2 separate regions of the Homo sapiens genome follow, and region 2 is linked to region 1. Evidence: fine-mapped expression QTL. A gene starts in region 1. The other region holds a variant in brackets. All regions are shown on one strand. Distances are between the middles of the regions.

Region 1 (16,184 bases):
AAAAAGAAAAATAGAACTTCATCTTGCAAAACTGAAACTACCTATGAAACAACTCCCCATTCCTGTCCTTGTCATCCCCCTCCTCCCCCCATTCTACTTCTTGTCTCTATGGATCTGACTAGATACCTTAATATAAGTGGAATCATTCAGTATTTGTCTGTAACTGGCTTCTTTCACTTAGTATAATGTCCTCAAGGCTGTGTCAATTTCTTTTTAAGAGTGAATAGTATTCCCTTGTATGTATACACCACGTTTTGTTTATCCATCTGTTTATCCACCGCACATATTGAGATTTTACCAAAGAAATGATACCATATCTGGGCCAGGCGCAGTGGCTCACGCCTGTAATCCCAGCGCTTTGGGAGACCGAGATGGGTGGATCACCTGAGGTTAGGAGTTTGAGACTAGCCTGACCAACATGGTGAAACCCCGTTTGTACTAAAAATACAAAAAATTAGCTGGGTGTGCTGGCGGGCGCCTGTAATCCCAGCTACTCGAGAGGCCGAGGCAGGAGAATCACTTGAACTCAGGAGGCGGAGGTTGCAGTGAGCTGAGATCCTGCCATTGCCCTCCAGCCTGGATGACAAGAGCAAAACTCCGTCTCAAAAAAAAAAAAAAGAAAAAGAAAAAAAGAAATGATGCCACGTCTGGAATTTGCTTCAAATTAATACAGGATGGGGGTGGGGGGAATGGGGGGGGATATAGATGAAACAAGCCTGGCCATGGGTTGAAGCTGGGTAGTTAAACATTTGTCTTTTTTATATTTTTAACTTTTCCCACAATAACATGTAAAACTAACAAAAAACTAGTGATGTGCATAACTACCCCTTCAGAGCAGGGAGTTCATGGACACATTTCCCAAGCACAGTCTTCAGTCATTAATTGTGGAAGGACATCCATGATTCCTTGCTCCCCAACTATTTTGAGAAGAGGAGGACAGTTCCGGTGACCTGAGGGAATACATGAGGAATTGATTACAACTCTGATTTCCCTGCTGTCCAGTTTTCCAGCCTGACTTATATTTATATTTTATTCAGGTCCAGGATTTTAGGTTATCAAGCCCAACCTGTTTTTTTCTTTCCCCCAAACAGCTGAGATTTAAACAATTCACCTGTTTAAAGTGTACAATTCAATGGTATATATTTTTGGTGTATTACACTATTAATATTTTAAATTGAAGTAAAAATAAATTTTTTTTAGTGTACAGTTCAGTGGCATTGATGACATTCCAGCCTGTTTTTAGAGTCCAAGTATTGATTCAGCTTTGAAGTCAGGAGATGTCTTAGGATCAATGCCTTTCTAGGCTTTATTAAGTCAATGAGAACCTGAAAGTGGTTGAGACTTTCGGGAATAGGATATTTGCTTCAAGTATGATTGAACAGAGCCTGGAATTTGAGTGAGAAGCCTAGGATGGGCTTCTAATTCCACCATCTAGTAGGTGAATAAACTTGACTTTTTTTTTTTTTTTAGACGGAGTCTCACTCTGTCTTGCCCAGGCTGAAGTGCAGTGGCACAATCTCGACTCACTGTATCCTCTGCCTCCTGGGTTCAAGCAATTCTCCTGCCTCAGCCTCCCAAATAGCTGGAATTACAGGCACCTGCCACCACACCTGGCTAATTTTGTATTTTTAGTAGAGACGGGGTTTCACCATGTTGGCCAGGCTGGTCTCGAACTCCTGATCTCAGGTGATCCACCCACCTTGGCCTCCCAAAGTGCTGGGATTACAGGAGTGAGCCACCGCACCCGGCCTAAACTTGACGTTTTACTCATCCTTTTGCCCCTCAAGTTCCCTCACTTGCAAAAGAAGTATAGTGCTGGTCCTTCCCACAGCAGAGATAGGGCCCAGCCCTTTCAGCCTTACTCTGCTTTATCTTAAGGTACACTCAAAATCGTGGTGAACACTGTGGTCACCAAGGGATAGACAGTTTTACAACTCTTCTGAAAGGTAGAATTCTTAAAAATAAGAGATTAGGCTGGGCACAGTGGCTCATGCCTGTAATCCCAGCACTTTGTGAGGCCGAGGTGGGAGGATTGCTTGAGTCTAGAAGTTTGAGACCAGCCTGGGCAACATAACGAGACCCTGTCTATACAAAAAATAAAAAATGAGCTGGGTGTAGTGGCTTGCACCTGTCGTCTCAGCTACTCAGGAGGCTGAGGCAGGGGGATTGCTTGAGCCTGGGAGCTGGAGGCTGCAGTGAGCTGTGATCGTGCCACTGCACTCCAGCCTGGGTGATAGAGCGAGACCCCGACTGAAAAAAAGAAAAAAAAAAAAGATTACAAAACAAGAACATAAGCAATCAACTTAATGATGGGCTTCATTTTCATTTTAAAAAAATCATCTGGCCAGGCACGGTGGCTCATGCCTGTAATCCCAGAACTTTGAGAGGCCGAGGCAGGTGGATCACCTGAGGTCAGGAGTTCGAGACCAGCCTGGCCAACATGGTAAAACCCTGTCTCTACTAAAAATACAAAAATTAGTCGGGCGTGGTGGTGGGCGCCTGTAATCCCAGCTACTCAGGAGGCTGAGGCAGGAGAATCACTTGAACCCGGGAGGTGGAGGTTGCAGTGAGCTGGGATCATGCCATTGCACTCCAGCCTGGGCGACAAGAATGAATCCCCACCTCAAAAAAAAAAAAAAAAAATCATCTTGTGCGGATTCAGCAAGATGTTATGCTGGTGGTGGGCCATGAACTGACACTTGTTGAATGAGGATACATCCTTATCCCACACAATTCAGTCAATCCACACCCTGTTATCAAATTTGTTTTCCAGCTCATTATTTTTCCCATTTGAGATTAATAATACAATAGTTATTATAATGAGCCCTTTGTATATACAGATTATCTTTTATCCATTAGCCTCATGGATGAATAGAATAGGACAATTGGATCAGGCCTCACATCCTGTGGTGGAGTCTGGCTGTGCATTGATGTCCTGGCTTTGCCACTCATATTAACTAACGTACCCTTGGTCAAGACATTTCACATCTCTGAACCTCAGGTCCCTCATTCTAAAAAGGGGATCATAACAACTGTCCTGGTTCTAAAAAGATAATGAAAGACGGAACTGTGGAAGGAAACCTTACATATGCGGCAGGTATTAAGTATTAGCACCCATACCAACCCATTTCACAAACATTCTTTCCCCTGAGCCCTCTGGAAGACTTGTTTATGCCTCTAGCCTTTTGACAAGGTGGTTCCTTGTCCCTCCCCTGGACCCCCCAACACCCATGGAGACCTGGATCTCCCCCAAGGCTACCCTGCTGAGTGAAGCGTCTGCTTATTTTCCCAGAAATTGACATCATTGTTCCAAGTTCCTTACTGCTTCCTCCACAACACTGTTCTTTCATCCTTGGTGGGGAGAAACTCCATTGTGTTTATTTTATTTTATTTTTTGAGATGGAGTTTCGCTCTTGTCGCCCAGGCTGGAGTGCAATGGCGCGATCTGGGCTCACTGCAACCTCCACCTCCCGGGTTCAAGAGATTCTCCTGCTTCAGCCTCCTGAGTAGCTGGGACTACAGGCACCCGCCACCGCGGCCGGCTAATTTTTTGTATTTTTAGCAGAGACGGGGTTTCACCGTGTTAACCAGGATGGTCTCGATCTCCTGATCTCGTGATCCACCCACCTCGGCCTCCCAAAGTGCTGGGATTACAGGGGTGAGCCACCATGCCTGGTCGTGTTTATTTTTTTAAATTAATTAATTGATTTTTTTTTTGAGACAAGGTCTCAGTCTGTCGTCCAGGCTGGAGTGCAGTGGCACGGTCATAGCTCATTGCAGCCTTGACCTCCTGGGCTCAGGCGACCTTCCTGCTTCAGCCTCCCCTGGGATGCATGCCAGCACACGTGATAATTTTTGTATTTTTTGTAGAGACAGGATTTTGCCATGTTGTCCAGGTAAGTCACCAACTCCTGGACTCAAACTATCTGCCTGCCTCAGCCTCTCAAAGTGCTGGGATTACAGGGGTGTGCCATGGCGCCAGGCCTCCATTGTGTCTTGAAAGGCACTGACATTTGTTCTGCAACCTTCTCCCTTTCCTTGTCACAGTCATCTATTAGTTTCAGGCTCACTACCCACCCCGCAACCCCAATTCTCTAAAGTTCCTTGACCTCGATTGACTCCTCCACCTCCTGCCATCCTTTTGGGACCCTCGATGTCCAACATACCAGCCTTGTGGGCACTAAACCCAAGGCCAGTGATGCCCATCTCACTTTTCTATTCCATTGTAGCTGCCACACCCCAAACTGTCTCATTTCCTGGAATATCCATTTGAAGGCCTGAACTCCAGCACCACACTCTCTGCTGCCAGTTTGCCAGTCCTCTCCTCAGAGGCCCTGGCCTTGGAGCCCTTCTCTCATCTGTCTCCCAGTCCATCAGCTCCCCGCTGGTTTTATTAACAGTTCCTGTCCTCTAGGACTAGAGCTCTGGCCCATCACTGCAATCGCAGTCTTTCTGTGCCCTCCACCTCCTCACCCTCTTGTCCTTCTATTCTATGCAAGCAGGAAACTTGGGTTTCATAACTAAGAGCTATATTTCTGTAGATACCTTGCCAGATTATAGCAGATTATAGCTGGACACCACTACACGATGATGGTTTCTAAACTCCACTAGGTCTTCAGTGACTCTTGTCTAACTTGTCGCTCTAGCATCTCACACTGGTTATGCGAAATTTCCACCACTTTCCTAAAACCTTCCATCTCACTTCAGACCCTTCTGTTGTCCATGTTAGCTTCCTTCAGTGGTTGGCTTCTTGCCTTCACCCGAAAAACCTCCTGTATCCGTTCCCAGCACCAATCATCCTCCAATACTCTTTTTTTTTTTTTTTTTTGAGACAAAGTCTCCTCTGTCACCCAGGCTGGAGTGCAGTGGCCTGATCTCGGCTCACTGCAACCTCTGCCTCCCAGGTTCAAGCGATTCTCTCTGCCTCAGCCTTCGGAGTAGGTGGGATTACAGGCAGGTGCCACCACACCTGGCTAATTTTGCATTTTTAGTAGAGACAGGGTTACACCACGTTGGCCAGGCTGGTCTCGAACTCCCGACCTCAGGTGATCCGCCTGCCTTGGCCTCCCAAAGTGCTGGGATTACAGGCGTGAGTCACCCGAAGAGTGACTTTTTAGAGTATTTGGGCGGGGTGCAGTGGCTCAAGCCTGTAATCCCAGCATTTTGGGAGGCAAGGCAGGAGGATCAGCTGAGGTCGGGAGTTCGAGACCAGCCTGGCCAACGTGATGTAACCCCGTTTCTGTTAAAAATGCAAAATTAGCCGAGCTTTTTGGCATCCGCCTGTAATCCCAGCTACTCCGGGGGCTGAGGCAGGGACAATCGCTTGAACCCGGGAGGCGGAGGTTGCAGTGAGCCCAGATCGCGCCATTGCACTCCAGCCTGGGCAAAAAGGGCGAACGAAACTCCGTCTCAAAAAAAAAAAAAAAAAAAAAGTCACTCTTGGAAGCCTTAATTGCCTTCCTCCCCTCACTGCACCCCCGCAACTCTTTGCTGCAGAAGTATTGTTCTAGGGAACCTTACTGGTTCCAACAGACGGGTGGACCTCCCACCAGACTGTGAGCTAGCTCCTCAAAGGCAGGCATTCTCTTTCCTTTTCCTTCTCTCCTGAGCGCTCCTGCAGTTCCTGGGGCGTAGTAGGGGATCCACAAGCGTTTGTGACCAGTGAAGTTCTTTACAAGGGTGAGATCTGCACGGGAGGACCCGAGCGAGGGTCTCGGCTTGCCAGGAAGCCGGGGTTCCCCGGGAAGCGTGGAGTTCACCCGCGCACTCGAAGTGCCTTTGCAAAGTGAGCCACGGGAGGGAGGAGCGGTCCCCGGGCTGGGCGAGGCCTGGGGCCCAGTGCGTCCAGAGCGGAGGGTGACGGGAGCTGCCTGTGCTGGAGGAATCACTTTTTAGGCGCTTGTTTTGGACCATTGCACAAACCCGGGTGCAAACCCCAAGCTCACCAGCGTGAGTGAGCTGGGCCAGCAGCAGGGAGGAGAGGGGAAGGTGGGCGAGGAGGGCGCCGCGCACCCCGAGGCCCGTGTGGGCGGTGGGAAGATCCCGGGGGCGGCTTTGGACAGCCCCGGCAGCGACCCCTTCCCCAGCCCGACAGGTGAGCGCCAGGCCAGCCGCGGGGTGGAGCCCGCCGTGCCCACCGGCCACCCTCCCCGGTGCTACCACCACCGCGCAGGTAACTTCCCTTCTGGGCCTGTCCCAGACCCCCAGGGCCTCGGCGCCCGGGCCATCCCTCGTCCCCAGGGCCTCTCCGCCCTGCACCCCCAGCCCCGGTGCACTTGTGGGGCCGGGCTCCTTTGTCCGCTCTCTGATGGCGCCGGCTCCCTGCCCAGCGCTGAGTCGGGTCCGGCCGCCAGCCCCGCGCTCGCAGACCTCGGCTGCCGGGTGTGGCGCGGGGACTGGGGAACGCTGGCCCGTGCCCAGTGCGGTTGGAGCCTGTCCCGCGCGTCCCCGGGACGCGCTTCTTCCCGCCTCCGCCCGCGCCAGCGCCCGCACCCGGATCCCCACTTCTCCCGGCCCTCGGGAGCCAGGAGAGCCCTGAGATGGCGTTGGCGGAAGTGAAGCCCCGAGCGGGGGTCTGCGAGGCTGGTGATCAGCGCCGGTAACATGGCCTTTCTGTCCTCTCCCCGGTCCCAGTGCACCCCTTAAACAACGACCCCCGCGTTTTCCCCGTACTAGATGGTTAGGGCGCATAGTGCCGAACTACGCTGCTGCTACAGAATAGCTTTTTTGGGGGCAACATAAAAAAGAATTGTATGTATGGTTTATATACAACAAAATGTCCCATTTTCAGTGTGCAAATCGACGGGATTTGACAAATTATACACTCCTGTAACCATTATCCCAAAGTGAACATTGACCATTTCCTTCACCCTGCAAAGTTCCCTGGTACCTCCTTTCTGTCAATCCACCCCAGGCCCCGCACTCAACCCCGGTTCTGATTGTTATCATAGCTTAGCTTTGACTGTTCTAGAACTTCATAGAACAAGATCATCAGGTAAGTACTCTTTTGTGTCTAACATTACTTTTTAAATGGCCATCACTGAGAAGGTGTCTCTGGGTGCTTCCGGTGCTTTTATTTGCTCTAGGCCTGCCTGGTCTAATGTGGGAGCCACTGGTCACATGTGGTTATTGAATACTGGAAATGTGGCAAAATCCGTACTGAGATGTGCTCTGAGTACAGGCACCTGATTTCTGAAAGCTTAGTACACAAAAAAGATGTCAAATATCTCACTAATACATTCTTACATTGTGCGTTAAAAGTGATAACATTTTTGGCTACATTGGGTTAAATAACATATATTAACATGAACTTCATTTGATTCTTTTTACTTTTTTAATATGGCTACTAGAAACTTAAAATTACGTACCTGGCTGTGTAATATTTTTTATTAGGTAGTGGAGACAGCACAGCTCTACACTGTGCTATCCTATAAACACTTGGTTCTGCTCACTGCATGTAAGAGTAAATGAAAAACTTGTCTTGACACCAGAAACAATCCTCAATGGAGGAAGTGATCTAAAACAGGGCCAGCCTTTCCCTGAACCTTTGAAACTTTGTTAAACTTACTTGTGTGCTTAAAAGAAGTAGAGGGCCGGGCATGGTGGCTCATGCCTGTAATCCCAGCACTTTGGGAGGCCGAGGTGGGCGGATCACGAGGTCAAGAGATCAAGACCATCCTGGACAACATGGTGAAACCCTGTCTCTACTAAAGATACAAAAATTAGCTGGGAATGGTGGCATGCACCTGTAGTCCCAGCTACTTGGGAGGCTGAGGCAGGAGAATTGCTTGAACCCGGGAGGCGGAGGTTGCAGTGAGCCCAGATCGTGTCATTGCACTCCAGCCTGGTGACAGAGCGCGACTCCAACTCAAAACAACAACAACAACAACAAAGTAGGAAGAATTAGGTGTCCCCTTGGTATTAAGTTGCATTTTTACAAAAGGTCTCTAAAATATCCAAGGTGCTTTAAAAAGGTATCTTGTGTTTTTGAAAAAACAGAAAATGAGCAATTGCTTATGTAGGGGAGGAAAGAGCTGATATCATAAGGGTCACGGCTGACAGCCTTAAACAAGAGACAGATTAACAAGAGAGAAGCATAATAATTTATTGAATCATAGGTTTATGTGACATGGGAGCCTTCAGAAATGAAAACCCCTTAAAGATGCAAGGGAAATGATCTGATTTTATGCTTGGAGTCCATGAAGCAGGGACAGATGAGCTAATGGAAATAGACTGAGTGGGGAAACCCAGCAAAGCCTGTCCACATTCTTCTTGGCCTCTCTGTTGTAGCGTTTCTTCCTCCCCAGTATGGGGTAGGACCTCTTTGGAATGAGGGTCTTAATTTCTTTATGGCCAGCTGTTGTATAGAAAGGTGGTTGAGAGGAAGGTTAGAGTCATATTTTTTGGCTTTATGGCTGGCTTTGGGGGGAAAAGGGTTCTAGTTTCTATGACTTGCCTTGGGGGAGTATGAGGGGTGAGAGACAGGAGGGCAGGAGAAGGTCAGAGAGAAACTTTGCTTCTGAGGCCTTCATTTTTGGGTTTTGTTTTCTGAGCCCCAACACATACAACCTAATCACCTAAATATATTAAGACATAACATGGTGTATCTTTGACCAAATTAAGATAGAAATCTGTTTTTTTTTTTTTTTTTTTTTTTTTGGAGACAGAGTCTCACTCTGTCACCAGGGTAGAGTGCAATGGCACGATCTTGGCTCATTGCAACCTTCACCTCCTGGGTTCAAGTGATTCTCCTGCCTCAGCCTCCCGAGTACCTGAGACTACAGGTGGGTGCCACCACGCCTGGCTAATTTTTGTATTTTTAGTAGAGACAAGGTTTAACCATGTTGGCCAGGATGGTCTTGATTTCTTGACCTTGTGATCCGCCCGCCTTGGCCTCCCAAAGTGTTGGGATTACAGGCGTGAGCCATTGCACCCGGCCATAAGATGGAAATCTTAGTGGTGACAAATAAAATTTAGATCTTAGTTTAAAAAAACATAGTCAATAATATATTCAATTTTATAGTCTGCTCTCTTTTTCAGGTAACATAAGCATTTTCTTTCTTCCTTTTTTTTTTTTTTTGAGACACGGTTTTACTTTGTTGCCCAGGTTGGAGGGCACTGGCACAATCTTGGCTCACTGCAACCTCCACCTCCCAGGTTCAAGCAATTCTCGTGCCTCAGCCTCCTGAGTAGCCGGGATTACAGGTGCACGCCACCACACCTGGCTGATTTTTTGTATTTTAGTAGAGATGGGGTTTCCCCATGTTGCCCAGGCTGGTCTCGAACTCCTGAGCTCAGGCAATCCGCCCGTCTTGGCCTCCCAAAGTGCTGGGATTACAGGCGTGAGCCACCGTGCCCGGCCACATAAGCATTTTCTTTTTTTTTAACTTTTTTTTTTGAGACGAAGTCTCGCTCTTGTCCCCCAGGCTGGAGTGCAATGGTGCTATCTGGGTTCACTACAACCTCTGCCTCCCGGGTTCAAGCGATTCTCCTGCCTCAGCCTCCCAAGTAGCTGGGATTACAGGCGCCTGCCACCACGCCTGGCTAATTTTTGTATTTTTAGTAGAGACAGGGTTTCACCATGTTGGCCAGGCTGGTCTCGAACTCCTGACCTCAGGTGATCCGCCTGCCTCAGCCTCCCAAAGAAGCATTTTCTTATACAAAAATTTATTAGGCATAATGTGACTTGTACGAATGTATGCCAGTTTTCTTCACCATACCTCTACGGCATTTTTCCATTTCGGTAACTTTTACAAAGAGAGTCATTTGAACAGTATAACAGTGCCAGAATAAGGTATAATTAAAGCACAGTTTATTTGCCCCTTAATCCTGCAGGAAAGGTGAAGTCCAGTGGAACATAGACCTTGTCTTTTTGTTTATCTCCATATTCCTAGGACTTGGAAATATGTCAAGCATGTAATAGATGTTCAAATAAACATTATATATGTAATATATGTATATATATAATTTATTTATTTATTTATTTCAGACGGAGTCTCACTCTGTTGTCCAGACTGGAGTGCAATGGTGTGATCTTGGCTCTGGGTTTGGATTGACAATGTTTTAAGCTATAAACATAGGTCAGATAGGTGGGTGCCCTGGTGACTAGTGAAGATGTGCGATGGCATTGAATGTGATCAACTGTGTTGTGTAGAGAAAGGTAGGCCCAGGGACTTAGGGAGGCCATCTGGGATGGAACATGTATATTTTGAATAGCTTCAGTTTACTCAGCCTGACCATGGTCAGCTAGTTCAAATGGAATTCACAGCTCTGACGTGTGATAACTTTAGTTAAGATAGTTTGTTTTGAAAGGTAAGCAGAGGAAACCACAAAATCAGAATGGGCATTCCTTTGAGGAGGACAAATAAGAAGTGGGTAACTGAAATTGTTCCTACCCGAATGCATTTGTGCTGAATTTCCAAGTATGTAAAAAAATTGTGAAATTACAAATGAAAGTGAAATTTATAGTTATTACCTTTTGTTAGTTACTGTCTCTCTCTCTCTCTCTTTTTATTTTTTCTTTTTTGGTACCGAGTCTCACCCTATTGTCCAGGCTGGAATGCAGTGGTGTGATCTCAGCTCACTGCAACCTCCGCCTCCCGGCTTCAAGTGATTCTCCTGCCTCAGCCTCCCATGCAGCTCATGTAGCTGGGACCACAGGCACACGCCACCACGCCCGGCTACTTTTTATATTTTTAGTAGAGACATTGTTTCGCCACGCTGACCAGGATGGTCTTGAACTCCTGACCTCAGGTGATCCGCCCGCCTTGGCCTCCCAAAGTGCTGAGATTACAGGCATGAGCCACCGCACCTGGTCTCTCTTTTTATTTTTGAGACAGGATCTTGCTTTGTCACCCAGGCTGGAGTGCAGTGGCACAATCACTTGGCTAACTGCAGCCTTGACCTCCTGGGCTCAAGCAATCCTCCTGCCTCAGCCTCCCCAGTAGCTGGGACTACAGGTGTGTGCCACCACACCTGGCTAATGTTTTATTTTTCTTTTGTAGAGAGGGAGTCTCACTATGTTGACCAGGTTGGTGTCGAACTTCTGACCTCAAGAGATCCTCCCACCTCAGCCTTCCAAAGTGTTGGGATTACAGATGTGAGCCACCATGCCTGGCATTATTTTTCTTTTTCTGTAACTGTAATTTTATATTGTGGTCTTACTCAGTTGCCCATTTGCCTGCCATGAGTACACAAATAATACTGTTTATGGTCTACTTTCACATACATGGTGAAATTACAAGAGCAGAAGGCCCCTGTACACACTCAAGGGAAAAACAATAGTACTCAAAGTAAAGAAAATCAAGTTATTGGGCTTCCTATAAAACAAAAGGGTTTGAATCAGAAAGCAGCAGAAAAGTCAAATAAATTTTCCTTATGACTGTCAACTTAAAAATCACAAGATCTATAAATTTAGAAAGGAGACTTTCTTTTTTAAAACATTTTCTTTTCTTTTTTTTTTTTTGAGACAGAGTCTCACTCTGTTGCCCAGGCTGGAGTGCAGTGGCGTGATCTCAGCTCACTGCAACCTCCGCCTCCCAGGTTCAAGTGATTCTCCTGCCTCAGCCTCCCGAGTAGCTGGGATTACAGGCGCATACTACCATGCTCGGCTAATTTTTGTTTGTTTGTTTGTTTGTTTTTTTTTTGAGACAGAGTTTCGCTCTTGTCACCCAGACTGGAGTGCAATGGTGCGATCTCAGCTCACTGCAACCTCCTCCACCCAGGTTCAAGCAATTATCCTGCCTGAGCCTCCTGAGTACCTGGGATTACAAGTGCCCACAACCACGCCCGGCTAATTTTTGTATTTTTAGTAGAGATGGGATTTCACCATGTTCGCCAGGCTGGTCTTAAACTGCTGACCTCAGGTGATCCACCCGCCTTGGCCTCCCAAAGTGCTGGGATTACAGGTGTGAGCCACTATGCCCAGCCTAACTTTTGTATTTTTTAGTAGAGACAGGGTTTCATCATGTTGGCCAGGCTGGTCTCAAACTCCTGACCTCAGGTGTTCCGCCTGCCTCAGCCTTCCAAAGTGCTGGGATTACAGGCATGAGCCATTGCACCTGGCCAAAATTTTTCTTACCTTTCGAGTCGGAGTCTCACTCTGTTGCCCAGACCGGAGTGCAGTGGCACGATCTGGGCTCACTGCAACCTCTGCCTCCCAGGTTCAAGTGATTCTCGTGCTTCAGCCCCGCAAGTAGCTGGGATTACAGGTGCCTGCCACCACACCTGGCTAATTTTTTATTTTTAGTAGAGACAGGGTTTCACCATGTTGGCCAGGCTGGTCTCGAACTCCTGATCTTAAGTGATCTGCCTGCATTGGCTGCCCAAAGTGCTGGGATTATAGGCGTGAGCCACTGTGCCTGGTGACTTTATTTCTTTTCTTTTCTTTCTTTCTTTTTTTTTTTTTGAGGCAGAGTCTTGCTCTGTCACCCAGGCTGGAGTGCAGTGGCACAATCTCGGCTCACTGCAACTTCCGCCTCCTGGGTTCAAGCCATTCTCCTGCCTCAGCCTCCCTAGTAGCCAGGATTACAGGTGTGCACCACCACACCCAGCTAATTTTTGTATTTTTAGTAGAGACAGGGTTTCACCATGTTGGTGAGGCTGGTCTCTAACTCCTGACCTCGTGATCCACCTGCCTCGGCCTCCCAAAGTGCTGGGATTACAGGGGTGAGCCACCACGCCTGGTTTACTTTATTTCTTTGCAGGCTGTAACAGCCTGCAAAGGGGCCATCCCACAGGCTGGGAAGCACACGTTTTAAAGAGACAGGGTCTCGCTATGTTGCCCAGGCTGTTCTCAAACTTCTGGCCTCAAGTGACCCTCCTACCTTGGCCTCCCAAAACCAGAGGCAGGCACTCTGAAGGAGGGTTCAGTTTTATGCTGAATGGGTTGGCTAAATATACATATTCAACAGGTTACAGGAGGAGCTATGAATATTCATGAAGGTGGTCCTGACTCATGTGTATTGAATAAACATGAAAATAGCATATGACCCCTGTTCACTTTGGGGATGGAGACTTAACATTTAAATGAATTTCAGTTAAGCCCTATGCATCAAAAGATCTTTCCAGGACATGAAGGCACGCAAGTCCACAGCCTCTGTAAACTGGCCAGAGCCAGTCCATGGTTGGTGGTCTTATCAGGAGAAAGTTACTCAAATCAGTCTCTTGTCCAATAAAAGCTGTAGTTTTGACTGGTGTAACAGGACTCAGTCAGTCAGCATCTGTGAGCTAGATGAGTTGTAATTATTTTAATATTGCTTATTTAAAAACAGTTTTTATTTTTTATTTTTTTGAGACAGAGTCTCGCTCTGTTGCCCAGGCTGGAGTGCAGTGAGCCACTGCACCTGGCAAGACTTTTTTTTTTAGAGTAATTTTAGGCTCACAGCAAAACTCAGTGGAAAGTACAGAGTTCCCATACACCCTCTCCCCCACTGCTATGCCCAGCCTCCCTGACTATTAACATCCTGCACCTGCAGAGTGGTACATTTGTTATAATCAGTGAACCTACATTGACGCATCATTTTTGCCTAAAGATCATAGGTTTTTGTTTTGTTTTTTTGAGACGGAGTTTCGCTCTCATTGCCCAGGCTGGAGTGCAATGGCCTGATCTCGGCTCACTGCAACCTCTGCCTCCCAGGTTCAAGCGATTCTCTCTTCCTCAGCCTTCGGAGTAGCTGAGATTACAGGCATGCACCACCACACCTGGCTAATTTTGTATTTTTAGTAGAGACGGGGTTTCTCCATGTTGGTCAGGCTGGTCTTGACCTCCCGACCTCAGGTGATCTGCCCGCCTCAGCCTCCCAAAGTGCTGGGATTACAGGTGTGAGCCACCGTGCCCGGCGGAAAGTCTGTAGTTTATTTACATCAGGGTTCGCTCTTCCTGTTGTCCATTCTGTGGGTTTGGATAAATGTGTAATGACATGTATCCATCATTACAGTATTATACAGAATAGTTTCACTGCCCTAAAATTCCTTTGTATTGTGACTATTCATCCCTCTCTCCCTCCTACCCGCTGACAACCACTGATCTTTTTACTATCTCTCTAGTTTTGCTTTTTCTAAAATGTCATATAGTTGAAGTCATACAGTATGTATGTTTTTCAGATTGGCTTCTTTCACTTGGTAATATGCACTTGAGATTCCTCCATGTTTTTTCATGGCTTGGTAGCCCATTTTTTTTTAACACCAAATTATATTCCTAGAGATTGTTGTATATTTTCCACTTTACAGATGAAGGAATAGGCACAGAAAGGATAAATAACTTGCCCAAGGCCGGGCGTGGTAGCTCACGCCTGTGATCCCAGCACTTGGGGAGGCCGAGGTGGGTGGTCACTTGAGACCAGGAGTTCGAGACCAGCCTGGCCAACATGGTGAAATCCCATCTCTACTAAAAATACAAAACTTAGCCCAGCATGGTGGTGCATGCCCGTAATCCCAGCTACTTGGGAGGCTGAGGCATGAGAATCATTTGGACCGGGGAGGTGGAGGTTGCAATGAGCCGAGATTGTGTCACTATACTCCAGCCTGGGCAACAGAGTGAGACCCTGTCTAAAAAAAAAGAAAAAAAAAAAAAAAAGAACTTGCCCAGGTACAGTTTGTACAGATCAGTCTGACACTGGAGTCTGAGCTCTTAAACATTTTAGCATGCCTGTGAATCCTAGAGAAATTTGGTTTATCATGATGAAGTTTGTTGCATGATAGAGTTGAGGTCTTTGGAAACCCAGGGCAACAGACCTAGGCACTTTGCTTGCAGAAGGTATCTACAGCTTTCTGTATAGTGACAACAATAAAAAGCCTAGAAGATAAGACTTTGTTTCAAAAAATTCAAGTATTTAGTTTGGACAGAAAACTGCTGTGTGCTTTTGAAATTTTGGTGAGACGAAGCATGGTGGCTCACTTTTGTAATCAGCATCTTGGGAGGCCAAGGCAAGAGGATTGCTTGAGCCCAGGAGTTTGAGACCAGCCAGGGCATCATAGTAAGAACCTGTCTTTACAAAAATGTTTTAAGAATTAGCTGGGAGACGTGGCACGTGCCTGTAGTCCCAGCCACTCTGGAGCCTGAGGCAAGAGGATTGCTTGAGCCCAGAAGTTCAAGGTTGCAGTGAGCTATGAACATGCCACTGCACTCCAGCCTGGGTGACATAGGGAGACACTGTCTCTTAAAAAAAAAAAAAAATTCTGAGCTAGGTGCGGTGGCTCATGCCTGTTATCCCAGCACTTTGGGAGGCTGAGGCAGGTGGATTGCTTGAGCTCAGGAGTTGGAGACCAGCGTGGGCAACATGGTGAAACTCCGTCTCTACAAAAAACCCACAAAAATTAGCAGGGCGTGGTGGTGCTCACCTATAGTCCCAGTTACTAGGATGCTGAGGTGGGAGGATCGCTTGAACCCAGCGAGCAGAGGTTACAGTGAGCCATGATTGCACCACTCACTGCATTCCAGCCTGGGTGACAGTAAGACTATGTCTAAAAAAAAAAAAAAAAAAAATTAATTCTGGTTGAATACACTGTCTGCTTTACTAGTTTTAAATATTTCTCTTTCCTTATCCATAATTTTATTGCCTTTCAGATTATATCTGGGTGTTGGCACCCAGCCACTATTCTGCCAATGAAGTACATCCTGGTCACGGGTGGGGTCATCTCAGGCATTGGTAAAGGGATCATTGCCAGCAGCATTGGAACGATTCTAAAATCATGTGGACTCCGAGTTACTGCCATAAAAATCGACCCCTATATTAACATCGATGCTGGCACTTTTTCACCTTATGAACACGGTACGAAAGTGAACCACTTCCCCCTTATAGCACTAGGCTCAACTGCATTCTTTCTTCCATTTTGGGTAATTTCTTTAGGATGTAGTTCCAGATTTAGAGTGACTAGATCGTATGCTATGAATATGTGAATTTTCTCATGGTCATTGATACATTGTTCATACCTCTGATGACATTCCAAATTAATCATCCCTTTTGGAAACATTGTATCTTTTGCACTACAGATTCTGTTTTATTTTTAACATAAAGGTAGTGTGTTTCTCTTAACATTTCCCACTGCCTGGAGTAACTATTATTAATGGTGACATTTTGATGTATGAGTATATTTGATTTATTTTTAAAATGGCATTAGCCCTTACATGCTATTTTTAAAAAACTTTTTATAAGGCCCAGTGCGGTGGCTCATGCCTGTAATCC
Region 2 (16,184 bases), 63 kb before region 1:
TGGAGTGCAATGGCGCGATCTCGGCTCACTGCAATCTCAGCCTTCTGGGTTCAAGCCATTCTCTTGCCTCAGCCTCCCAAGTAGCTGGAATCACAGGCATGTGCCACCACGCCCAGCTAATTTTGTATTTTTAGTAAAGACGAGGTTTCTCCACCTTGGTCAGGCTGGTCTCGAACTCCTGACCTCAGGTGATCCGCCCGCCTCAACTTCCAAAGTGCTGGGATTACAGGCATGAGCCACTGCGCCTGGCAAGAAAACCCATTTCTAACCTTCATTTTGCTACTTAAGAAAGCCTCTGTTATTGGTTGAGCTATGGCTAACAGAAGCATCTGTAGTGGCTAGAATAGGAAATATGGACTCCTGACCACCCCTGGTGTATAAAGTCCTAAGTGGGGTCATTTCCAGCTCTAAACACAACACACTCCTCCTCCACCTCTTCCTTCTCTATCTTTGCTGACAGTAAATTACAGGCCTCATCATACCCTATAATATGATCACAGATATTAACATAGCTAAAGAAGCAATGTGGGGCTGGGCACGGTAGCTCATGCCTGTAATCCTAGCACTTTGGGAGGCCGAGGCGGGTGGATCACCTGAGGTCGGGAGTTCGAGACCAGCCCGACCAACATGGAGAAACTCTGTCTCTACTAAAAATACAAAATTAGCTGGGCGTGGTGGCTACTAATCCCAGCTACTTGGGACGCTGAGGCAAAAGAATTGCTTGAACCCCGGAGGCGGAGGCTGCAGTGAGCCGAGATCGGGCCACTGCACTCCACCCTGGGTGACAGAGCAAAACTCCGTCTCGGGAAAAAAAAAAAAAAAGAAGCAATGTGGCTATGAGAAGAGAGGAAACCTAGAAACTTAGGGAGAGAGTAAGGAAGGCCAGGCTGCCAAAGCCCATCTAAGCAATTTTTGGAAGACAAAGAATCTTGGTCAAAAAGAGGACTTCAAAAATGATCATCCTATTTGTAAGGCTATCCTTTACGTGGGGATGGAGGCTCCAGTTATCCTAACACCTTTGATCAATGGGAATTGATTTGATTTCTTACCTAACCACCTTCCCATTGTAATTGTGCTTCCTACAATTGGAAGCAGGTCTGTGGTCTGACCACAGGGAGAGAATGTAGATGTGTACCTTTTAACTCCATGAGACACTTACATTTGCTCATTGTTAACAAAGGGACATTTTGACTTTATTATTATTTTATTTACTTATTTATTTATTTTTTGAGACAGAGTTTCACTCTCGTTGCCCAGGCTACAGTGCAATGGCACAATCTCGGCTCGCTCCAATCTCCGTCTCCCGGGTTCAAGCGATTCTCCTGTCTCAGCCTCCCAAGTAGCTGGAATTACAGGCACCCACCACCACACCTAGCCAATTTTTGTATTTTTAGTAGAGATGGGGTTTCACCATGTTGGGCAGGCTGGTCTCGAATTCATAACATTAGGTAATCCATCCACCTCAGCCTCCCAAAGTGCTGATTTACAGGCATGAGCCACCACACCTGGCCATTATTATTTTTGAGACGGGGTCTCACTCTGTTGACCAGGCTGGAGTACAGTGACACGACCTTGGCTCACTGCAACCTCCACCTCCCAGGCTCAAGCGATCCTCTCATCTCAGCTTCCCAAGTAGCTGGGACTACAGGAGTGCACCACCATGCCTGGCTAATTTTTTGTATTTTTGGTAGAGATGGGGTTTCACCATGTTGCCTAGGCTGGTCTCAAACTCCTGAGCTCAAGCAATCCACCCACCTCGGCCTCCCAAAGTGCTGTGATTACAGGCATATTCGACTTTATATAGCAGCTCTGGTTAATGTGTACCTATTCCCTGACAGAGAGTGTACTCTGGGTGATCCCTCCAGGAAGCCCCACTGGTCCCAGGATATCTTAGTTGCCTGTGTTATGTACCCCTAGCATACTGTACTTCCCATACCAGGCCAGTCCCCACTCTTCAAGGCAGTGGTTTGTCTAATTGACTCTTTCCCCCAGCCAGATGGTAAACAAAGTGAGGGCAAGGACTGTGCCCATAAGACTCCTATATTCCCAGTGCCCAGCAGAATGCCAGGCACAGTCTGCACACGGTGGTTCACGCCTGTAATCCCAGCAATTTGGGAGGCCGAGGCAGACAGATCGCTTGAGGTAAGGAGTTCAAGACCAGCCTGGCCAGCATGTTGACACCCGCCTCTATCAAAAATACAAAAATTAGCCAGGCATAGTGGTGGGCGCCTGTAATCCCAGCTACTACGGAGGCTGAAGCAAGAGAATTGCTTGAACCCTGAAGGTGGAGGTTGCAGTGAGCCGAGATCGCACCACTGCACTCCAGCCTGGGCGACAGAGCAAGACTCCACCAAAAAAAAAACAAAACAAAAAAACCCAGGCACAGAGAAAGCTCTCCACACATACTTATTGAGAAAAAGATCCCCTGAATAGGTAACTGCATTAAGAAATCTGTTTTCTGAATCTGTTCAGATGAGGACCAAACCTTCAATTCCCCAAGGTGATATCCTATCCCTTCTTGTGACATCTTGGAGAGTTTTCTGACAGCAGTGTCCCTCTGCAACACTGTGTAGACCCTCCAGCAGCCAAGGGACCAAGGTCATTCCAGGATAAACTTGGTGGCAATAGAAAGTTTTCATTCATCAGTTAAACAGGAGCACTGTATTAGTCACCAGGCATACCTTGATTTAGAATAAGGGGTACCCAGGCCAACACTGAACACTCACATGTACAACAAACAATAAAGTAATTTATAAAATGGAGGTATTGCAGGGTAACCTCTTGAGGGTTATTTTCTACTGGTGGTGGGGAGGTTTAAGGATGGTTTAAGGTGACATCTGAGCTGTGTCTAAAGGGTCAACAGAAGTTAAATTAGCCACACTAGTCTGACTTGTCCACCTCAGAGTACTTTCACAGAAAGAAAAGCTCCTACTAACTTTTAAATCAGCCAAGAGTATTGTTTCATCAAAAGAGTTGAATTTCATGTTTGTTGCATACTATTGGGGTTGTAGGTAGTGAAAAAGAGTGTTTGCCTCTTCATAGAACAAAAAGCTTATTGTTTAATATGATTACACAATACCATCTTTCTGAGCTAACCCTGATTTTAGTCCTTGTAGGAATTTGGCCAGTTTCTGCATTTGCTATAGATGTCCACATTTCTGGCAGACACTGAAAGATTTAGAAAATGATTATACTTTATACACAGATCACTCAGGCATACTGATGGCAGGCTATGGAGTGTACTATTAGATTGGCACACACCAGGGTGCCAGCTCTAGCAGAAAGAGGATTTTTAAAATAAAAACTCTTCTCATGTATGGACTATTGGGAGAGAGTATGTGCGTTTCAAAAATTCGAATACGTATATTGCATATTTCAGAGTATTGGGATTCATTCATTTTGTTTTGATATACTTCCCCAAGTCTCGCCTATAATTATAGACTTCAAGGACATGGAAACAATGTTCATGTATAGAGACAATGGAAAAGAAAAATACAAACTACAAATAGGTTTAGGCTTTATTGAAAATCTCGGGGCCAGGAGTGGTAGCACATGTCTGTAATCCCAGCACTTTGGGAGTTCGAGGCAGGGGGATTGCTTGAGGCCAGGAGTTCAAGACCAGCCTGGGCAACATAGGGAGACCCCATCTCTACAAAAAATAAAAAATTAGCCTTAGCCAAGTGTGGTGGTGCACACCTGTAGTCACAGCTACTTGGGAGGCTGAGGCAGGAGGATCGTTTGAGCCTAGGAGGTTGAGGCTGCAGTGAGCTGTGATCATGCCAGTGCATTCCAGCCTGGGTGACAGAGTGAGACCCTGTCTCAAAACAAAACAATTTTTTTTTTTGAGACAGAGTCTCGCTCTGTCACCTAGGCTAGAATGCAAAGTGAGACCCTGTCTCAAAACAATTAAAACAATTTTTTGTTTTGACAAACTGAGACCCTGTCTCAAAACAATTAAAACAATTTTTTTTTTTGAGGCGGAGTCTTGCTCTGTCACCCAGGCTAGAGTGCAGTTGGCACGCTCTCGGCTCAATGCAACCTCCGCCTCCCGGGTTCAAGTGATTCTCCTGCCTCAGCCTCCTGAGTAGCTGGGATTACAGGTGCAAGCCACCACGCCCAGCTAATTTTTGTATTTTGTGATCCCAAAGTGCTGGGATCACAGGTGTGAGCCACTGCGCCCAGCCGAACAATTTTTTCAAGTTTTTTTTTTTGTTTCATTTTGTTTTAAGAAACAGAATCTCTTTCTCTGTGTTACCCTGGCTGGAGTATAGTGGTTTTCATCCTAGCCCACTACAGCGTCAAATTGGGCGACAGAGTAAGACCTTGTCTCAAAAAAAAAAAAAAAAAAAGAGAGAAAAGAAAAGGGCTGGGCTCGGTGGTTCACGCCTGTAATCCCAGCACTTTGGGAGGCCAAGGCAGGTGGATCACCTGAGGTCAGTAGTTCGAGACCAGCCTGGCCAACATGGTGAAATCTCATCTCTACTAAAAAGAAAACACAAAAATTAGGCCAGGCACGGTGGTTCATGCCTGTAATCCCAGCACTTTGGGAGGCCAAGGTGGGCAGATCACTTGAGGTTGGGAGTTCACGACCAGGCTGACCAACATGGAGAAACCCCGTTTCTACTAAAAAATACAAAATTAGCCAGTCGTGGTGGCGCATGCCTGTAATCCCAGCTACTTGGGCCGCTGAGGCAGGAGAATTGCTTGAACCCGGGAGGCGGAGATTGCGGTCAGCTGAGATCGCACCATTGCACTCCAACCTGGGCAATAAGAGTGAAACTCCATCTTAAAAAAAAAAAAAATTAACTGGATGTAGGGGCGCGTGCCTGTAATCCCAGCTACTTGGGAGGCTGAGGCAGGGGAATTGCTTGAACCTGGGAGGTGGAGGTTGCAGTGAACTGAGATCGCACCACCGACAGAGCAAGAATCCGTCTCAAGAAAAAGAAAAAAGAGAAGAGAAGAGAAGAAAAGAGAAGAGAAAAGAAAGGGGAACCATCCTGGCCAACCTGGTGAAACCCCGTCTCTACTAAAAATACAAAAAATTAGCCAGGCATAGTGGTGGAAGCCTGTAATCTCAGCTACTCGGGAGGCTGAGGCAGTAGAATCCCTTGAACCCAGGAGGCAGAGGTTGCAGTGAGCTGAGATTGTGCCACTGCACTCTATCCTGGGCGACAGAGTGAGACTCAAAAAAAAAAAAAAAAAAGAAAAAAGAAAGAAAAAAGAAAAAGAAAGAAATCAGCATCCAGTTTAAACCACTGTAATTCTGGATTTTTCTGTCACTTGCCATCAAGCTGATTCTGAAATCACAGAAAGATATATATAGATTTGCTTCTAGGGAAGAGGGTCTATGCTTTTTCACTCACAGTCACACACACACACACACACACACACACACACACACACACAGATGCTCACTTCCTCCCATCATCACATCATCCTCTCTAAATGGTTGTTTTCATTTTGTTAATTTAATATCTTAATTTTTTTTACATTATTTTCATGTAGATATTATTCACAACCTAGTTGTATAGTATCCTATTAATAATTTCTTTTTTATGTTTCTTTTTTCTTTTTTTAAAATTGAGATAGGGTCTTGCTCTGTTGCCCAGGCTGGTCTCAAACTCCTGGACTCAAGTGATCCTCCCACCTCAGTGGGAGCCACGGTGCCCTGCTCCATGTTTCTTATCTTTTCTCTTCTATTTTCCTATATCCTGTTTTGCTACAGACAGTTCCAGGGTTACAATTTTTGATGTTG[C/T]GATGGTGCCAAAGTTGTATGAATTTGACTTTGAGTACCCATACAACCATTCTGTTTTTCACTTTCAGTACAAGTATTCAATAAAGCACATGAGATATTCAACACTTTATTATAAAACAGCTTTGTGTTTGATGATTTTGACCAACTGTAGGCTAATATAAGTATTATGAGCTTGGCCAGGAGTAGTGGCTTACGCCTGTAATCCCAGTACTTTGGGAGGCCGAGGTGGGCAGATCACCTGAGGTCAGGAGTTCGAGACACACCTGGCTAACATGGTGAAACCCCATCTCTACTAAAATACAAAAATTAGCCGGGCGTGGTGGCTGGCGCCTGTAATCCCAGCTACTTGGGAGGCTGAGGCACGCGAATCACTTGAACCTGGGAGGCAGAGGTTGCAGTGAGCCGAGATCGTCTCACTGCACTCCAGCCCGGGCAATAGAGCAAGACTCCGTCTCAAAAAAACAAAGTATTATGAGCTTACATTAAGGTAGGCTAGGCTAAGTTATGATGTTTGGTAGGTTAAGTGTATTTTTTTTTTTTCCGAGATGGAGTCTTGCTCTGTCTTGCCCAAGCTGGAGTGCAGTGTCACCATCTTGGCTCACTGTGGCCTCCACCTCCCAGGTTCAAGCAATTCTTCTATCTCAGCCTCCCGAGTAGCTGAGACTACAGGCATGTGCCACTACACCTGGCTAATTTTGTATTTTTAGTAGAGAAGGGGTTTCACCATGTTGGCCAGGCTGGTCTCGAACTCCTGACCTCAGGTGATCCACCCGCCTTGGCCTCTCAAAGTGCTGGGGTTACAGGCATGAGCCACCACGCCCGGCCAGGTTAAGTGTATTAAATGCATTTTCCACTTATGATATTTTCAACTTCTGATGGGTTTATTGGAACATAACGCCATCATAAGTCAGGAAACATCTGTACTTTGTAGATGATCTCAACTTTGTCTTCTAATACTACTAATGAAGTTTTGATCAATGTCATATTTTATTTACTTTTTATTTAATTATTAATTTGTGAGACAAGTCTTGCTCTGTCACCAAGGCTGGAGTGCAGTGGTGTGATCATAGCTCACTGCAGCCTCTACCTCCAGGGCTCAAGTTGAGGCAGGAAAATAGGATCTGGAGGTAGGGAATATAAGGCCGATTCACACTTCAGCTATGACAGGAAATAGCCTCTCCATAGGGCGTAGGCCAAGTAAATGATTGTAACTTTACTTTATCCTCTTCATTTACATAGGGCATACCTCAAGTAGAGGTTATTTTTAAACTCCCAAAAATTCTGAAACAGGGCCTTTGAGCTATGCTTGGGCCTGCTCAAACCCTGTGGAGTGTACTTTCATTTTCAATAAATCCCTTCATTCCTTCCTTGCTTTGTGCGTTTTGTCTAATTCTTTGCTCAAGACGCCAAGAACCTGGACACTCTTCCCGGGTAGCAAAGTGATCCTCCCACCTCAGCCTCCCAAATAGCTGGGACTAGAGGCATGCACCACCATGCCTGGCTAATTTTTATTTATTTATTTCATTTTATTGGTAGAGACTTGGTGTTACTATGTTGCCCAGGCTGGTCTTGAACTCCTGGGCTCAAAGGATCCTCCCTCCTTGGCCTTCCAAAGTGCTGGGATTGGTGTGAGCCACTGCCCCCAGTCTGCAGGACAATTCTTTTTTTTTTTTTTTTTGAGACAGAGTTTCACTCTTGTTGCTCAGGCTGGAGTGCAATGGCCCCATCTTGGCTCACTGCAACCTCTGCCTCCTGGGGTCAAGCAATTCTCCTGCCTCAGCCTCCCAAGTAGTTGGGATTACAGGCATGCACCACCACCACGCTTGGCTAATTTTGTATTCTTAGTAGAGACGGGGTTTCACCATGTTGTTCAGGCTGGTCTTGAACTCCTGACATCAGGTGATCCTCCTGCCTTGGCATCCCAAAGTGCTGGGATTACAGGCGTGAGCCACCACGCCAGGCTGACAATTCTTGAAGAGTAAATAGCTTTTCCCATCAAAAGGAATCAAGATTCCTTGAAGAAATGCCTGCTTCCAGGTCTGAGGAAAGGAAATGTAAATTATTACCGATTTTTCTTATTTTTCCTACTATGTTAAGCACAGAAATTCCCAAAAACATAACCACAAATAGTTAAAAAAATATATAAAAAAAAGATGGCCAAGTGCGGGTGGCTCACGTCTGTACTCCCAGCACTTTGGGAGGCCAAGGCGGGCGGATCACCTGAGGTCGGGAGTTCGAGACCAGCCTGACCAACATGGAGAAACCCCGTCTCTACTAAAAATACAAAATTGGCCCGGTGTGGTGGCACATGCCTGTAATCTCAGCTACTTGGGAGGCTGAGGCAGGAGAATCGCTTGAACCCGGGAGGCGGAGGTTGCGGAGAGCCGAGATCACGCCATTGCACTCCAACCTGGGCAACAAGAGCGAAACTCCGTCTCAAAAAAAAAAAAAAAAAAAGATATAGCCGCCATTTTGGTGTAAGCCTCCCGAGTCTTTTCTATGCATATGAGGCAGGAGAATAGGGTCCGGAGGCAGGGAACCTAAGGCCGATTCAAGCTGGCTTTCTAGAACTAAGTCAATGGCCGGGCGCGGTGGCTCACGCCTGTAATCCCAGCACTTTGGGAGGCCGAGGCAGGCAGATCACCTGAGGTCGGGAGTTTGAGACCAGCCTGACCAATATGGAGAAACCCTGTCTCTACTAAAAATACAAAATTAGCCGGGCATGGTGGCGCATACCTGTAATCCCAGCTACTCAGGAGGCTGAGGCAGGAGAAGCGCTTGAACCCGGGAGGCGGAGGTTGCGGTGAGCCGAGATCGTGCCATTGCACTCCAGCCTGGGCAATAAGAGTGAAGTCCGTCTCAAAAAAAAAAAAAAAAAAAACTAAGTCAAAAGGAACATCCCAACTTTCCACAGGTAAATAACAAAAGGATTGTAAACTACTCCCTTTGCAAATCCACCCCACCCCCACCCCACCTTTCTGTGCGGCAGATGGAAAATTGAAAGCATTTCTGATTGGTTGCCTTCTTTTCTTTCTTTCTTTTTTTTTTTTTTTTTTTTTTAGGGGGGTGGGGAAGTTGTCTACCTCTGTGGCCCAGGCTGGAGTGCAGTGGCACGATCTTGGCTCACTGCAATCTCTGCCTCCCAGGTTCAGGCGATTTTTGTGCCTCAGCCTCTCAAGTAGCTGGAATTACAGGCACGTGCCACCACGCCCAGCTAAATTTTTTATTTTTAGTAGAGATAATTCCTCATGTTGGCCAGACTGGTCTCAAACTCCTGACCTCAGGTGATCCACCCGCCTTGGCCTCCCAAAGTGCCGGGGTTCCAGGCGTGAACCACCACGCCCAGCCTGATTGGTTGCTTTCTGTAGCCAATCAGACGTTTGCATAGGAGTGAGTGTAACTTTGTAACTACACTTCATCCTCTGATTGGTTGCTTTCCACAACCAAACAGACTGATTGCAGGCCGCTATTTCATTTACATAGGGTGTACACCATGTAACCAATGGGAAACCCCTAGAGGGTATTTAAATTCCAGAAAATTCTGGGGCTCTTGAGCCCCTGTACTAGGCCTGCTCCAGCCTTGTGGAATGTACTTTTGTTTTCAGTAAATCTCTGCTTTTGTTGCTTCATTCTTTCCTTGCTTTGTGCGTTTTGTCCAATTCTTTGTTCAAAACGCCAAGAACGTGGACACCCTCCACCGGTAACACAAAAGCATGCCCAACACACACATACACGGGCATTTTTGGAAGAAAAAGTGTAATCGTATTAAATATTTTTGTAAATTGCCTTTTATATTTCATTTAACATTATATTGTGAACCTTCTCTTATGTCAAATGTAGCGCTTGGACGTCATTTTTGAAAGCATTCAAGAAATCCTTTATCCAAAAGAAATCACAGTCAGGGCATCGGTGAACAAAACAAATTGGTTGAGTTTCCCGGGTGGACTCTGGACTGGGCCTTTTCCCTACCTTGCAGGCTGCAGCCATGCTTGGGAGCTACGGCATTAATCTATAGGGCAATGACTCAGCTTCATTTGCATAACCATGGTGCACTGCATGCAATATATTTACAAGTTAAAAGCCGTAGGTGTCCTTTAAACCTGCTGTTTTGAAGAATGATACTTTTCCTTACACATTCGCCTGAAAGAAGTGCTGTATGTATTTGAGCTGGGCTTAATTTCACCCTCAGTGTACCAGAGGTGGCTGTTACCTGGCAACTGCCTTTCCAAGCTTGCTGTTGTTTTTTCTTGTTTTTAGATTAATAGAGTTAGTCGTTTTTTTTTTTTTTTTAATTCTGTTACTATTTTATGAGACAGGATCTTGTTCTGCTACCTACACTGCATTGTAGTGGTACAAATATGGCTCGCTGTAGCCTCGGCCTCCTGGGCTTAGACCACCCTCTTGCCACAATGGTAAATGCCCAGCTAGTTTTTTATTTTTACATTTTAATTATTTGTTTTTTTTTATTTGTTTTTTTTTGAGACAGCGTCTCACTTTGTTGGTCAGGCTGGTCTCAAATTCCTCGGCTCAAGTGATCCTCCCACAGCGGGGATACAAGCATGAGCCACTGTGCCTGGCTTTCCCTTTTATTAAAGATTTAAGCAAAAATAAAACTAAGTAGAGTTTGTTGGGGGTTTTTTGTTTGTTTTTTGAGACAGTCTTTGTTGGGTTTTTGTTTGTTTGTTTGTTTTTTAAGACAGTTGCCCAGTCGCCCAGGCTGGAGTACAGTGGTGCAATCACAGCTCACTGCAACCTTGACCTCCCAGGCTCAAGTGATCCTCCCATCTCAGCCTCCCGAGTAGCTAGGACTACAAGTGCATGCCACCATACCTGGTGAATTTTTTGTATTTTTATTAGAGATGGGGTCTCACTATGTTGCTCAGGCTGGTATAGAACTCCTGGGCTCAAGGGATCTGCTAGCCTTGGCCTCCCAAGGTGCTGGGATTATAGGCATGAGCCACCAGGCCCAGTGAGTAGAGTTTTAACTGGGTGTTTTATTGAGGTGTGTAATGTTGGGACCTGTCTTCTCCTTGTTTTATGTAGCTGTAGTTTCTTGATTTCTCTTATGCTATGTAATATCTGACTTTTATGGTAGCTGTTTCTTTTAGTTCTACTACATATGTAGTATAGTTGTACCTGTATTTGGAGTTTACGTAGGTCTTCTCTCCAATCTTGCATTTTCTGTTTAACATTACATTTATGAGATTCATAGATTCACTCACAGCACTGTGCACAGCTGTTATTTTTTCGTGTTCTTGGCTCTTTGCTATGGTTATCACACTGTCATTATAATTCCATTCTACTGTTGATGCACATTTGGGTTGGGTGCAGCCTGAGGTCACTAGAACATCACTTTTATTGACAGTCGTGCATGTGCCACCTACTAGCACATGCCATATGATGTTTTTATCTTCCACTTTACTAAGTAATGGTAGTTATTTTCATAAGTGGTTAATACCATTTGGTATTCCCTAGGAGAGGAACTGCTTGCTGGGCAAAGAGAAGTACATATTCAACTTTTCATTGAAGTAATGCCAGTTTTGGCTTACTTCCAAAGAGATTGTGCCAGTGCATAGTTGCGCCAATAGCACGTCGATGTTCCTGTTGTTTCACATGCTTACTAACTCTTGATATTTTCAGACTTCTACTTTTTTTTTTTTTTTTTTTTTGAGATAGGGTCTACTCTGTCACCCAGGTTGGAGTGCAGTGGCACGATCTCGGCTTACTGCAACCTTTGCCTCCCAGGTTCAAGTGGTTCTCCCACCACAGTCTCCCAAGCAGCTGGGACTACAGGCGCGCACCACCATGCCCAGCTAATTTTTGTATTTTCGTAGAGATGGGGTTTCATCATGTTGCCCAGGCTGGTCTTCAACTCCTGAGCTCAGGCAATCTGCCCACCTCAGCCTCCCAAAGTCTTAGGATTACAGGCGTGAGCCACTGCACCCAGCCTTCAGACTTCTACATTTTTGACCATCTGGTGGGTATAAAATATATCACTTAAAATATTTGCACACAATTCCATCATGTGGATGAACCACCATTTGTTCAAATCAAGATTCTGGTGTATGACATATAGGTACCTGCCAATTTTTCTATTGTATACTCAAAGTCTTGCTTGTCTAATTGCTTCCTTAGCATAAATTCCAAGAGTAGAAATGTCGGGTTAAATGTTCCTCACATTTAACATTTTGATGCTTGTTACCCGACTGCCATTTGGAAAGATTTAACAATTTTACACTCCCATCTACAGTATTTTTATGCTTTTTCCCCATACCCGTGTCAAAATTAGGTATTAAAAGAAATCTACAAAAATTAGCTGGGCATGGTGGCAGGTGCCTGTAATCCCAGCTACTCGAGAGGCTGAGGCAGGAGAATAGCTTGAACCCTGGAGGCGGAGGTTGCAGTGAGCCGAGATCGCACCACTGCACTCCAGCCTGGGCGACAGAGCAAGACTCCGTTTCAAAAAAAAAAAAAAAAAAAAGATGCATGTCCTTAATTTTAGAAGTCAAATTACACAAGGCTTTTAAAACAACAGAGACCCTTGACCAGTGCTTCTCTCTTTGTAACTACCCAATGGGTTCATTTTGCCCACTGCCCAGATGGAGCCGATTTATCAAAACAAGGGAATTGCAATAGAGTTTAATACACACAGAGCTGGCTGAACAGGAGACCGGAGTTTTATTATTACTGTGAATAGAAAATATCTTGGGCCCCCAAAATCACTAAGCTAAAGGGAAAATTCAAGCTGGGAACTGCTCAGGGCAAACTTGCCTCCCATTCTATTCAAAGCCATCCCTCTGCTCACTGAGATAAATGCATATCTGATTGCCTCCTTTGGAAAAGCTAATCAGAAACTCAATGCAACGGTTTGTCTCTCATCTACCTGTGACCTGAAAGCCCTCTCCCCTTTCGAGTTGTGCGCTTTTGCTTCCAGTTGTCCCGCCTTTCCGGACCACACCAATGTTCATCTTACATATGTTGATTGGTGTCTCATGTCTCCCTAAAATGTATGAAACCAAGCTGTGCTCTGACCACGTTGGGCACATGTTGTCAGGACCTCATGAGGCTGTGTCACAGGCACACATCCTCGACCTTGGCAAAATAAAGTTTCTAAATTAACTGAGGCCTGTCTCAGATTTTTGGGTTTCACATTCCTGAAATCAGTCTCCCTGAAGATTTGGAAACTGAGGTTTTTAAAGGATAATTTGGTGGGTATGGGGCTAAGGAGTGGGGAGTGCTGATTGGTCGGGTCAGAGATGAAATCCTAGGAGGTCAGTCGAAGCTGTGCTCTAGCAATGAGTCGGTTCCTGGGTGGGGGCCACAACACCAGATGAGCCAGTTTATTGATCTGGGTGGCACCAGCTAATCCATGGACTGAAAAATATCTTCAGCACCTAATCTTAGGTTTTATGGTAGTGGGTAGTGATGTTATCCCTAGGAGCAATTGAGGAGGTTTAGAATCTTGTGGCCTCTAGCTGCAAGACTCCAGAACCATAATTTCTTTATTTTTTTATTTTTTATTTTTATTTATTTATTTATTTTGAGACAGAGTTTCGCTCTTGTTGCCCAGGCTGGAGTGCAGTGGCACGACCTTGGCTCGCTGCAACCTCTGCCTCCCAGGTTCAAGCGATTCTCCTGCCTCAGCCTCCTGAGTAGTTGGGATTACAGACACCTGCCACCATGTCTGGCTAATTTTTGTATTTTTAGTAGAGACAGGGTTTCACCAAGTTGGCTGGGCTGGTCTTGAATTCCTGACCTCAGGTGATCTGCCTGCCTCAGCCTCCCAAAGTGCTGGGATTACAGGCATGAGCCACCGTGCCCGGGCTATTTTTCTTTTATTATTATTATTATTATTTTTACTTTCTTTTTCTTTTTTTTTTTGGACGGAGTCTCGCTCTGTCGCCCATGCTGGAGTGCAGTGGCGCGATCTTGGCTCACTGCAACCTCCGCCTCCTGGGTTCATGCCATTCTCCTGCCTCAGCCTCCCGAGTAGCTGGGATTATAGGCACCCGCCACCACGCCCGGCTAATTTTTTTTTTTTTGCATATTTAGTAGAGATGGGGTTTCACCGTGTAAGCCAGGATGGTCTCTATCTCCTGACCTCATGATCTGCCTGCCTCAGCCTCCCAAAGTGCTGGGATTACAGGCGTGAGCCACCGCACCCGGCTATTTTTACTTTCTTGGGCTTTCCAGTAAAGACCAGAAAACCTGCTAGATAAATTCTAAAACAGCTGTGACACTAAACCATAATATTGTGGCTCATGTGTTAGTCCTACAAAGGCAGTGTGGTTCCCATGCAAGAATGGGGTTTGTTTCAGGAAAGGGCTGTTACAATCTTTATGTCAAAGTTAAAGTTCTTCCCAAAGTTAGTTTGGCCTATGCCCAGGAATGAACACAGAAGCAAGATGGAGTCAGTTAGGTCAGATCTACACACTGCCATAACTTTGTCACTGTTACACTTTTTGCAAAGGCCATTTCACATCCCCAATTCCCACTTCTCAGGAGCCATTTAAAACTTAGCAATTTTGTCTGTTTGTGTCTGTGTCTCATAACAATATGCTTACGCCACTTGCCCTTGATTTTCAGTTGTAGATTGTGGCAGAGACCACAAATTGCCCACCCTGATACCAACTTTTCCTCAGCCTTCCGAGTTACTGCACCTCCAGAATTCCTGAGCATTTCCAGGCTTCTGAAGCATGAAAATGTTCTTGGTATCACTTGGCTGTTGCTGACCCTTCTGTTTTTGTCACTATGAATGTATAGCTTTTCTTTTCATTCCTTTACTGTCATTCAGTGGGGTTTGTGGATGGAGTGGAGATACATGCATATATTTATGTGAGAACCTAAGATATTGTACATTTCAGAAAACTAAAAAACAAAACCCCACTTTGAAAACAGAACTAAAACAGTATTTATTTTACAAAGGCCTCTTTAAAAATAGGATGACATTTTAGACATAGGTTGTTAAAAAACGTGCAGTCCAACCCTTTCATTGTACTGATAAAGAAGCTTGAGTGTGTCAGGCTGAGTATTTTCACCAAGTCTCCTGACTTTCCACTTGAGTCTCTTTCCCTGGGCCCCGTGGTTCTCAATCTTAGCTGCTGTTACAAAGTCTTGGAGAGTTTCAAACAACCCTGTACCCTCAAGGGCTACATCCCCAGCCAAATAAATCAGTATCTCTGCAGGGGAGCCTGGGCATCAGTAGCACCTGGACTTGCCAGGAGGTCCTATTGTGCGGCCACGCTTGAGGATGACTACCCGCTGCCAGGAGATTGACTGGTTTAGTCCATTTCTAAAAGCATGGTAATGTGGACATCAAGACATCCATCACAAGCTCATTATTATTTATTTATTTGTTTGTTTGAGACAGGGTCTGGCTCTGTCGCCCAGGCTGGAGTGCAGTGGCCTGATTGTGGCTCGCTGCAATCTCCTCCTCCTGGGCTCAAGCCATCCTCCCACCTCAGCCTCCCGAGTAGCGGGACTCCAGGTGCCCGCCACCACGCCTGGCTTTTTTTTTTTTTTTTAATTGAGAAAGGCTTTCACCCTGTTGCCCAGGCTGGTCTCAAACTCCTGGGTTCAAGTGATCCGCCCACCTTGGTATCCCAAAGTGTTTGGATTACAGGTGTGAGCCTCTGTGCCTGGCCTATTTTTATTAATTACATTTGTGTGTTATCCAGATTTTTTTTTTTTTTTGAGATGGAGTCTCACACTGTCACCCAGGCTGGAGTGTAATGGTGCGACCTCAGCTGTGACCTCTGCCTCCCGGGTTCACGTGATTCTCCTGCCTAAGCCTCCCGAGTAGCTGGGATTGCAGGTGCACACCACCACACCCGGCTAATTTTTGTATTTTTAGTAGAGATGGGGTTTCACTGTGTTAGCCAGACTGGTCTCAAACTCCTGACCTTGTGATCCACCCGCCTCCGCCTCCCAAAGTGCTGGGATTACAGGCGTGAGCCACCGCACCTGGCCCCAGATTTTAAATAGTATCTATTTTCATGCCTCAATTTCACAAGCATGTACTCTGTTACTCCAATTAACAATGAACACTCAACAATTTTGTTAGTGGCATCAATACAGTGTTCTTGTGCCACACTCCTTTGATAGTGGCATATTATTTAGCTCAGTTCTCACATGCCACTTATACCCTAAAGTAAATCTCCATGAAACAGTTTAAAATTGCTGAGTGACATGGTCATTTTGCTATATCAGGATTTTTTCATTGTCTAAGTGCAGTAATGGCAGAGAACATTATGCACTTTATTGCTATTATGCTGATTACAGTTGGACACTGGGTACTGTAGGAGTAGTCACTCAAAACCTCCATTATGATGAATTGATCTATTATCTCTATTTATTAGGTCATAGGAGCTGGTTAACGTCGCTGAGTTTTAGCTCTGGCTGGCAGAAAGCATACTCACTGTTCATTATG

Direction of the effects. Alleles are on the strand shown, and positions count from the first base shown. SD is a standard deviation of normalised expression in the study named.
With allele C in place of T in region 2, the expression in cerebellum of the gene that starts at base 5,838 in region 1 is lower (moderate effect, 0.65 SD a copy in GTEx).

What was found. PIP is the estimated chance that this variant, and not a neighbour inherited with it, causes the effect.
Region 2: its variant is fine-mapped to the expression of CTPS2 in cerebellum (GTEx, PIP 0.97).

The regions. Positions count from the first base shown.
Region 1 is chrX:16,702,323-16,718,506 of GRCh38, reverse strand. CTPS2 (CTP synthase 2) reads left to right here and starts at 5,838. Exons shown (of 19, transcript NM_175859.3): 1 at 5,838-6,172; 2 at 15,566-15,770. The coding sequence starts at 15,605. RefSeq lists silencers at 5,966-6,055, 6,116-6,385.
Region 2 is chrX:16,765,657-16,781,840 of GRCh38, reverse strand. It overlaps the pseudogene RNU7-56P. Among named protein-coding and RNA genes, the nearest start is that of TXLNG, 13 kb to the left of the region's middle. RefSeq lists enhancers at 9,312-9,837, 9,838-10,363. The variant C/T (reference allele first, on the strand shown) is at 5,756.